3 linked regions of the Homo sapiens genome follow. The protein of the gene in region 1 interacts with the protein of each later gene in a pairwise test. Each region holds a gene or a part of one and is shown on either strand. Other genes may lie near its edges.

The links.
Region 2: the proteins of IMP3 (region 1) and EVI5 interact in binary tests that used the Homo sapiens proteins (3 or more experiments, as listed by UniProt).
Region 3: the proteins of IMP3 (region 1) and LPXN interact in a two-hybrid assay, tested with the Homo sapiens proteins (one large-scale study listed by BioGRID and IntAct).

The regions. Positions count from the first base shown.
Region 1 is NC_000015.10:75,638,593-75,641,738, forward strand, and holds IMP3 (U3 small nucleolar ribonucleoprotein protein IMP3), read right to left. Parts: upstream 1,633-3,146; 5' UTR 1,577-1,632; coding exon 1,022-1,576; 3' UTR 501-1,021; downstream 1-500. UniProt on the Homo sapiens protein: Component of the 60-80S U3 small nucleolar ribonucleoprotein (U3 snoRNP). Required for the early cleavages during pre-18S ribosomal RNA processing. Part of the small subunit (SSU) processome, first precursor of the small eukaryotic ribosomal subunit.
Region 2 is NC_000001.11:92,778,496-92,782,149, forward strand, and holds part of EVI5 (ecotropic viral integration site 5 protein homolog), read right to left. Parts: intron 1-3,654. UniProt on the Homo sapiens protein: Functions as a regulator of cell cycle progression by stabilizing the FBXO5 protein and promoting cyclin-A accumulation during interphase. May play a role in cytokinesis.
Region 3 is NC_000011.10:58,551,712-58,555,365, forward strand, and holds part of LPXN (leupaxin), read right to left. Parts: intron 3,230-3,654; coding exon 3,130-3,229; intron 1-3,129. UniProt on the Homo sapiens protein: Transcriptional coactivator for androgen receptor (AR) and serum response factor (SRF). Contributes to the regulation of cell adhesion, spreading and cell migration and acts as a negative regulator in integrin-mediated cell adhesion events.

The sequences.
Region 1 (3,146 bases):
CAAAACACTCATTCCAAGGAAGGGACTGGTAAAGTGACAAATTTGCCCAATCCTGTACAACATCCTGCATCCTCCACATGTGGCCCTGTTGCACATCTAATCCACAGGCAGGTCACTCGCTGCTGACTCTATTCTTCTCTGGGCTCCTGGGACGTATAAATATGACTCTATGTAAGAAAACCAGAGGCTGGGCGCAGTTTGCTCATGCCTGTAATCCCAGCACTTTGGGAGGCCGAGGCGGGCGGATCACGAGTTCAGGAGTTCCAGACCAGCCTGGCCAACATGGTGAAACCCTGACTCTACTAAAACCACAAAAATTAGCCGGGCGCGGTGGCGGGCGCCTATACTCCTAGCTACTCGGGAGGCTGAGGCAGGAAAATTGCTTGAACCCGGGAGGCGGAGGTTGCAGTGAGCCGAGATCGCGCCACTGCACTCCAGCCTGGGTGACAGAGCAAGACTCCGTCTCTAGAGAAAAAAAGAAAACCAGACAGATTAAAAAGTTGCACTTACAAAGCAGTTGGGGCATTTATTGACATTTAAACAAGGGAGGAGATCCTGAACACTAGTCTCGCTCAGTTTATAAAAACTTGAGGCCAAACTCTCCATCATCTGTACACAGCTTAACCACGGCCAGGAGCAAGAATTCGAGTTAAACGAATTGAACCAGTCCAACCACAAGACGATAAAGGGAAACAGGGCGTGGGGATTTCCAGTTTTTCCTTTTACATTACAAAGTTTCCAACACAAGAAGCCAACAATACCCCAGTGCTGCACCAAGTTACTTCCCACTGTTTCCCAAGGCACAGTCAATTAATAATCAGTAGTCCAAGTTCTAAGAACATTCCCTGGAAAACAAGGACGCACCTCCCGTGGCTCTATGCATGGCCTGCCACTGATGAATCAAATTCTTAAGAACCTACGACCGTCTGATACCCTTGAGGAGAGCACCCTCATAGAATCTCCAGCATCAGGCCTCAGTTTTCCCATCTGTAAAAGACAGCCATGCAAAGTGGGAGATCCGCTAGGCTTCCAGATCGAAGTCATCGCGCTCCTCATTGTACTCTAGCACGTGCCGCTTGATCTTGGACGAGTCCACCCAAGTGACAAAGTCCTCCATGCTGCGCGTGACAAGGAAGGCGGGGTCGGTAACCACGTCAGGGCCCACGCGTACGTGCCCTTGCTCCACAAAGGCCACGGCAGCCTGAAGGTGCTGCGCCATGCGCAGCTTGAGGAGCACGGTGGGGAGGCGGCGGCGGCAGAAGGACGAGGCCGTGACGAAGTCGCAGAGCTCCAGCGAACCGCGCGTGGGCACCAAGCCGAGAGCATACAGCTTGTCCAGCAGCGCGGCCGAAGCGCGCACGCGGAACTGGTCGCGTTCGGGCAGGTCGCGCAGGCGCCGCGCCAGCTCACGCACGGCACGGCTCAGCTGGTTGTAGCGCGTGTAGTCCTCCCGCCGCTGCAGCCGGTAACGCCGCAGCACGCGCAGCTCGTGCAGGTTGTGGTCGGTGACCTCCCAGTTCAGGAAGTCCACCTGCTTCAGCAGCTTCTGCTCGTGGAACTTAAGCTTCCGCACCATGATGGCGGCAGCCGCAGCCGCAGGACCCGAAGCTGAGAGCGCGTTCTGGCATCCGCGCGATTTCCGCCGCGGCGCCCCAAGACCTGGACGGCCTGGGACCCTGGGCCAATGAAAGAAAGACTTAAAGTCACGCCCTCACTTCCCATTGGCCAGGGTGGGACCACGCCTCTGCACTGGGATCTCGCGTTTCTTCTTTTCTTCGCGTTTGCGAGGGAGGGGGTAGAAGCACCGGAGGTGGGTGGTTGGGAGCGGGTCCCTAGGCGGTTCCGCGCGGTTTTTAGTAGCCAAGACTGTATCCCTTTCTGCGGCAATCATTTCCTCCTAGACTTCTGTCCTTTGGGGACTTTCAGAGTCTCCCCCGCAAGAGCTGAAGAGGCCATTTCTGGGGAAGAGGGGTGACTGCGGCTTGTTGATTGGGTTTACTGTGCTAACTTGCACTGGGCTCCTGCCATGCCTTGGGGGAGCTTGCCGGAGCCGGCTCTCCTGGGGCTGACCTGGTAGTCCCCGCCGCCCGCCAGCGTCAGGTCCTTCACCTGGCATGCAGAGCGATCTCTCATTGTCAAGTTGGGATAGGTGGCACCGAACCCATGAAATACTGATTGGCTGCTTCCTAGGCCCACAGAAAAGGGATCTATAAGGGAGTCGCCTGGAAATCTGTATTATTAACTAAAGTGTCAGATGATTCATAAAACCCAGCAAGTTTGAGAAACTTGGACTATAACTACAAGTCCAAACCCTTTAGTCTGTGCTCAAATGAATTATCCTGACATGAATTTCTGGCCACCAAGCATTGAGTTAACAAATTTAATGCTGTTTCCGCTAGTTGCATCTGTAAGTTACATCTGAGTATAGCGCTGCAGACCTAACCCCTTTTTGCCCGGGCATTTGACGCCACCTAGCTTCTCACTGATCATTTTTGTTTTGTATGCTTTTCATTGTCTTTTACAATACAATATTTGAGGGTTGGGCGCGGTGGCACATGCCTGTAATCCCAGCACTTTGGGAGGCTGAGGTGGGAGGATCATTTGAGGCCAGGAGTTCAAGACCAACCTAGGCAAAAAAAAAAAGAAAAAAGAAGCGAGATCCCACCTCTGTAAAAAATCTTAAAGAATTAGCCAAGCATGGTGGTGCGCACCTGTAGTCCTGACTACCTGGGAGGCTGAGGGGGAAGGATCATTTGAGCCCAGGACTTGTAGGCTGCATTGAGCTACAATGGTGCCACCGCACCCCAGCTTGCACAACAGAGCCAGACCCTGTCTCAAAAAGATATATATATATATATAAAATATTCGATATCTGGAAAATAATATAATATGTAAATTATAAAGTATAATAAATACTCATAAACTTAGCCAGTTTAAGAAAACATCACCAGGCTAGGCATGGTGGCTCATGCCTGTAATCCCAACACTGGGAGGCCAAGGTGGGAGGATCACTGGAAGCCAGGAGTTCAAGACCAGCCTGGGCAACATAGTAAGACTCAGTCCCTATGGACAAAAAAAAAAAAAAAAAATTAGCCAGGCATGGTGGCAGCACCTATAGTCCCAGCTACTGGTGAGGGTTTCGGGGT
Region 2 (3,654 bases), on another chromosome or scaffold:
AAATGTTCTTTGGCTCCTTACCCAACCCTCTTTTCCTGAGTTCCCAGATACTGACAACCAGACCTCAACTCTCCAAGCAGAAAACTGGAAGATACTCTCTGGAAAATATGACTGGGACAAAAGGAAAGATAAATACAGTGGAGACAGCCTCAAACAATCCACCCAGATCAATTATTTCAATCTTGGCTACACACTGGAATTATCTTGGCAGCTTTAAAAAATACTGGTGCTAATCTTCGGAGATAGAAATCAGAATAGTGGTCACCTCTAGGCTGGGAGTGAGACAACAGAAGAAAGGGATATGAAGGAATTTTCTAGAATTTTTTGCCATGCTCTACATCTTATATCGGTTACATGGTAAAAATCAAACTATACACTTAAATTCTGTGCATTTTACTGTATGTAGCCACACCTAATTTTTTTAACTATCCCTACCTGGGACCTAGTCTCAGAGATTCTGACGTATTAGCAGCAGGGATTTTTTTTTTTAATTCTCCATGTGATTATAATGTGCAGCCGAAGCTGAGAATCACTGCTTTAGACTCTAGAATATAGGGTAAAACAACATGTCCTTAAGTCCTACTTACAAGTTCAGGACTTCCCATCAGCTTTCAGTAGCCCACTGTTAATCATGAACAGACAACCAAGGATTACCAGTCTTCCGAGGAGGGCCTCTACTAATAAGACTATACCAAATAGGAAAAAAAGTAACTTGGAAGAAACTATGCAAGGAAAAGAAGGTCTAGGCCAGGTGCAGTGCCTCACAGCTGTAGTCCTAGCACTTTGGGAGGCCAAGGTGGACGGATCACCTGAGGTAAGGAGTTCAAGACCAGCCTGGCCAACATGGTGAAAACCCGGCTCTACTAAAAATACAAAAATTAGCTGGGCATGATGGCAGATGCCTGTAATACCAGCTACTTGGAGGGCCGAGACGGGGAATCGCTTGTACCCGGAAGATGGTGGCTGCAGTGAGCCGAGATCACGCCACTGCACTCTAGCCTGGGTGGCTGAGACTCCGTCTCAAAAAAAAAAAAAGAAAGGCTTAAGAAAACGATTTTTAACATTCTCAGAGAGATAAGAACAGATATGGCACCCATGAAACAAGAAGAGATGGAGAAATAAGTGACTGAGTAGAGGAGGCTGAACCTACTGGCCTGCAAAAGGGAATACAATCAAGAAACAAGCTGAGGAGTCTCTCTGAGCCTATTCTGGCTCAGAAGAAGGCTGCCAGATAAAGTGATATAAAAATTTTTTTAATTTAAAAAATAAAAAGAAGCAAGCTGATTTGGCTAACTCACAGAATCACAGAAAGGCTCAGAATCTAGGAGCCTAGGAGTTCCCAGGTATAGGGTCAGTGGAGAGGCATGGGGCTAAAGAGAAAGTAAATGGTTTAAAGTTTATGTAAGGTACAGTTGGACTCTAGTCTAGGTTCCCTCCTCTGCCACCATTCCTATCTCATAAATTTATTTTCTAGAAACTCTGACCTGGTGATACGATTTGGCTCTGTGTCCCCACCCAAATCTCACCTTAAATTGTTAATAATCCCCACATGTCAAGGGCAGGACCAGGTGGAGATAAATGAATCAAAGGGGCAATTTCCCCCACCCTGTTATTGTGATAGTGAGTGAGTTCTCACGAGATCTGATGGTTTTACAGGGGGCTTCACCCTTTGCTGGGCATTCATTCGCTCTCCTGTTCCCCTGTGAAGAGGTGCTTTCCACCATGGTTGTAAGTTTCCTGATGCCTCCCCAGCCATATGGCACTGTAAGTCAATTACACCTCTTTTCTTTATAAATTACCCCGTCTTGGGTATTCTTCATAGCAGCATGAGAACAGACTAATACACCTGTGAGACTCCAGACTCAAGAAAAGTAAAGTAAGGCTCAAGGCTGAAAGCCAAGGGGTTAAACAGAAGTGTGTTTGATGAAAAGCAGCCCCTGCCCACAGCCCACTTTCTTTGCCCACCTCTCAAAGTTGGAGAGCTTATATTACCACATATCAAAGCTTATTATAAAGTTACATTAATACAGTGATATTAGTGCAAGGATGACAAATATACAAATAGAACAAAGTATCCAGAAACAGACCCACACTAATTTCATAAATTAGCTGACCATACTGTTATCTAATTTATGAAAAAAAGTGCCACACAGTGCAGATGGACAAGGATGGTATTTGCAATAAATGGTGCTGGATCAAACAGACGTCTATATAGAAAAAAGTGAATCTTGGCCCGGTGCAGTGGGTCATGCCTAAATCCCAGCACTTTGGGAGGTCAAAGCAGGTGGAGATCATGTTACTGCACTCCAGCCTGGGTGATACAGTGAGACCTTGTCTCAAAGAAAAAAAAAAGTAAATTTTTTTTTTTTTTTTTGAGACCGAGTCTCACTCTGTCGCCCAGGCTAGAGTGCAATGGCACAATCTCGGCTCACTGCAACCTCTGCCTCCTAGGTTCAAGCGATTCTCCTGCCTCAGCCTCCTGAGTAGCTGGGATTACAGGCACCCGCCACCACGCCCAGCTAATTTTTGTATTTTTAGTAGAGACAGGGTTTCGCCATGTTGGCTAGGCTGGTCTCAAACTCCTGACCTCATGATCCGCTCGCCTCGGCCTCCCAAAGTGCTGGGATTTCAGGCATGAGCCACCACGCCCGGCCTAAAAAGTGAATCTTGACCCCTGCGATTCATCAAGAATTTACTCTAAATTATATACCTTAAATGCAAAAAGTAGGGGATGGGTACAGTGGCTCACACCTGTAATCCCAGCACTTTGGGAAGCCGAAGAGGGCAGATTGCTTGAGCCCAAGAGTTTGAGACCAGCCTGGGTAATATGTTGAAACCCTGACTCTACAAAACATACAAAAATTAGCCAGGCATGGTGGCATATGCCTGTAGTCGTAGTCACAGCTACTCAGGAGGCTGAGGTGGGAGGAATGCTTGAGCACAGGAGGCGGAGGTTGCAGTGTTCTGAGACTGCACCACTGCACTTCAGACCCTGTCTGAAAAAAAAAAAAATTTTTTTTGCAAAAAGTAAAATAAAATTGCTATAAGACAACACAGAAAAATATGTTCATATTCTCAGGTTAGGCATTGATTTCTTAAATAGGACACAAAAAGCAGTAACCATAAAGGACAAGATTGATAAAGTATACTTCATTAAAATTAAGAATCTCAGGCTGGGTGCAGTGGTTCATGCCTGTAATCACAACACTTTGGGAGGCTGAGGCTGGTGTAGGTGTATGACTTGAGCCCAGGAGTTCGAGACCAGCCTATGCAACATGGCAAAACCCCATTTCCACTAAAGATACAAAAATTAGCTGGGCATGGTGGTGCTCATCTGTAGTTCCAGCTACTTGGGGGTTAAGGCAGGAGGAATACCTGAGTCTTGGGAGATCAAGATTGCAGTGAGCCGTGATCGTGCCACTGCACTCCAACCTGGGCAACAGAGTGAGATTCTGTCTCAAAAAAAAAAAAAAAAAAAAAAAAGGCCAGGCACGGTGGCTCACACCTGTAATCCCAGCACTTTAGGAGGCCGAGGTGGATGGATCATGAGGTCAAGAAATCAAGACCACCCTGGCCAACATGGTGAAGCCCTGTCTCTACTAAAAATACAAAAATTAGCCGGGCATGGTGGCACACACCTATAGTCCCAGCTAC
Region 3 (3,654 bases), on another chromosome or scaffold:
TATATGTTGTAATGTCAGACAGAGATAAGTTATAGAAAGAGATAGAAGGGACACAGCAAGATGGTAAGAAGAATTGATTTAGATGGAGGTAATAATCAAAGAAGGCCCCTCTAAGGAAGTAATATTTGAGTAGATACTTGGGACTTAGAAATATTGACATTTATGGGAAAAGCATTCTAGGGGAAGGGAAGGCCCCGAGGAATAAAACAACTTGGCACATTAGAAGAAAAGTCAAAGAGGTCAGTGGGGCTAGAGCAGAGGGAGTGAGATTGAACACGGCAGGAGAAGGTGATGGAGAGAGAGGCAAAGATCACATAGGAACCTCATGGTAAACGCTTGGGTTTTATTCCAAGGTGATGGAAGCCATTGCAGGATTTCAAGCACAGGAGTGAAGGAATCTGGAGGATCCCTGTGGTAGCTGAGTGGAGAACTAAGTGTTGACAAGCAAGAGTGAATACAGGGAGATTTTCAGATAATGACTTAGATCAGTATTACAGGAGAAGGTGGTGAGAAGTGGTCAGATAAGACTTGTTGATGGATTGGAATTATTTAAGCAAAAGCCCAAAATTATTATAAACCATTCAAAGAAGGATCCTCAAATTAAAAGAAAAAAAAAAAAGGCTAACTGACCCTTCATAACCTCATAACCTGATTCTGGCTCTCTCTACTCCTTTCCAGCTGGGCGACTGCTACCATCTATCTACTGAATACTTCACTCATCAGAAAACTACAATGGCTCTCCATTGCCACCACATCAAGTCTTCACTCATCAGACAGACATTCAAAGCCTCCCATCCACTGTCCTCCCTTTTTATCTTTCCCAATTTCATCTTTTATTAATACTATGTTGTAAAAGGACAGCTGGGCTCTTCATCTCCTGAATGTGATCTGTTACTGTCTGCCTTAAGACCTCTACTTATCCTACTTTTACTGCCTGTTATAACATCACACTGTCACCAATCAAAATGCTCATTTTGCTTCGAGACATTTTGATCATCTGACAGACATCCTTCCTTCTCTAATATATGTTAGTTAATATTCAAGAGGTTAGTGTTCAGAAGGTTAGTGTCTGAAAGGTCTGAAAGGGTGACTGACATTAATTATGAAAAATAAGTAAAAATACAATATAACTACATCTACACCTACATCTCTATCTCTTCACTGTTATCTTCCAGAATACTTCTGAACAGATATAGAAGAGACAGGAAATTCTGCCTATCTCCGGTGGGGCAGAACTGGATGGCTAGGGTGCAGAGCTGAGAAGGAAACAGTTCAGTGCAAGCTTTTTGCACTTTTGATTTGTGTACAATGTGAAAGTGCAGCTTATTCAAAAGATAAATGGGGCCGGGCACAGTGGTTCATGCCTGTAATCCTAGTACTTTGAGAGGCCGAGGCAGACAGGTGGCCTGAGCTTAGAAGTTTGAGACCAGTCTGGGCAACATAGCAAAACCTCGTCTCTACTAAAAATACAAAAATTAGCTGGGCATGGTGGCACACGCCTGTAATCACAGCTACTCAGGAGGCTGAGGCACTAGAATCGCTTGAACCCAGGAGGTGGAGGTTGCAGTGAGCCGAGATCATGCCACTGCACTCCAGGCTGGGTAACCGAGTAAGAATCTGTCTCAAAAAAAAAAAAAAAAAAAAAGATGGTGTTGTAAATTAAAAATTTAAATCAACCAATACACAAGCTAAATCAACTAGAAACGCAACACAATTAAATCTAATGTACATTTTTTCTAGTATTTTCAGATATACAGCATAATGAGCCAATCTACCCAGCTTTATTGTAGACACTGGCCCATCAAAGGATGTCAGTCATTAAGGAAAACTTGTTTGTGATGTTTATTTACTCATCTCTCTAATAAATATGTGTTGCTCACGATGTATCAGGCCCTGTGCTGAGCATTGGGAGTCCCAAGGTGAGCTCTAAAGATAAGGTCCCTGCCCTCTCCAATCATATACATTTTTATATACTGCTTTGAAATTATTTCATAGTCATCTCATGAGTATATATCAAATCCTCCAACCAGATTTAAAATGGTTGGATTCTCCACCTTAAGGATTCTGGATTATATTTCCTTTAATAAATCTTTAAGCCCATTTATCTGAGATTTCCATTCCATGCCCGACTATGTGAGCTCACCACTTTAGAGGTGTTCTAGAGGCTAGAACAAAGAGGCAGATTTTATCTCAATATGGGCTTGGGACTTCTCATCCTTCCTACTGTCAGAGCCATACTTTGATCTCCCTTGCTGTGTCTCAGCTTGCTCACTGGTCTCCTCTGTCCTGCTTAGTCAGGTCTCTTTAACAGTCCTTTTGGCCGGGCGCAGTGGCTCACGCCTGTAATCCCAGCACTTTGGGAGGCCGAGGCAGGTGGATCACGAAGTCAGGAGTTCGAGACCAGCCTGGCCAAGATGGTGAAACTCCGTCTCTACTAAAAATACAACAAAAATGAGCCGTGCACAGTGGTGGGCACCTGTAATCCCAGCTACTCGGAAGGCTGAGGCAGGAGGATCGCTTGAACCTGGGAGGCGGAGGTTGCAGTAAGCCAAGATAGCGCTACTACACTCTAGCCTGGGCAACAGAGCAAGACTCCATCTCAAAAACAAACAAACAAACAAACAAACAAATGAAAAATCCTTCCACATCATCAAGCCTTAGATACCTCTGCCCTCAGGACTCATTGCAACTAAAACCACCTTTCTTCCCATCTCTTTATGTCCAAACTCTGCCAGTTCTTCAGAGTCCATCCCAAGTTTCAACTCTGATTAAATCTCCAAAATCTCTCTATATCCGTAATGTTTGCTCCACATATGTTTGCAAAACACCTGGCTTTTATTCTATAAATGTTAAGAAACTTATGCCTCATTTTGCCAAGCACACTCCAGCTCCTTGAGATCAAAGTCTGTATTATATATTAATTTTTGTGTCCAAATAACACATAGTACAAAGATGGGTTAATTCATGGAATTAAATTTAGTCTGAAAAAAGCAATGACAACTTAGGAAAATTCCTAAGTGGGAGAATGGAGAGCTGAGTTCCACAAAGATAAACTGGTGACCCCATGGGCCCTGTTTATCATCTGGACTGCACTCACCTTGGCCTGCACTCACCTTGGCCTGCACTCACCTTGGCCTGCATCTCAGTCAGGTGAGCCATGAGCTCATCCAACTGAGCAGCTGCTGACGTTTTAGAAGGTGGTGGTGATTCCTTTGGCTCTTGGGCTTCACTATAGAGGGAAAACAAAAAAGTCATATGAACAAATCAAAACTCAAATAATGTTAAACCACACATAAAGTACTGGAAATGCAACTGTAATAATGAATCCCCTGGATATGAAGCTAAAATCAGAGATGGGGGTATTTTAAAAATATATTAATATGTACTAGACCAAAAATCTAAACAAGTTCTCTCTGCCTTTTTTCTCTATTTCTCCCTGGTCATCTAATTATAAAAAGTATTATATCTCCTGTCAGTTTTTGTCAAAAAATAAAAATAAACTAGAATATAGAGCAGGCATCAACAAACTAAGGTCCTTGGATCAAATCTGGCCATGTCCATTCATTTATCTACTGTCCATAGCTGCTTTTCTGAACAGTTGGGTAGTTGCTACAAAGACTTTATAGTCCACAAAAGCCTAACAAACTTACTATC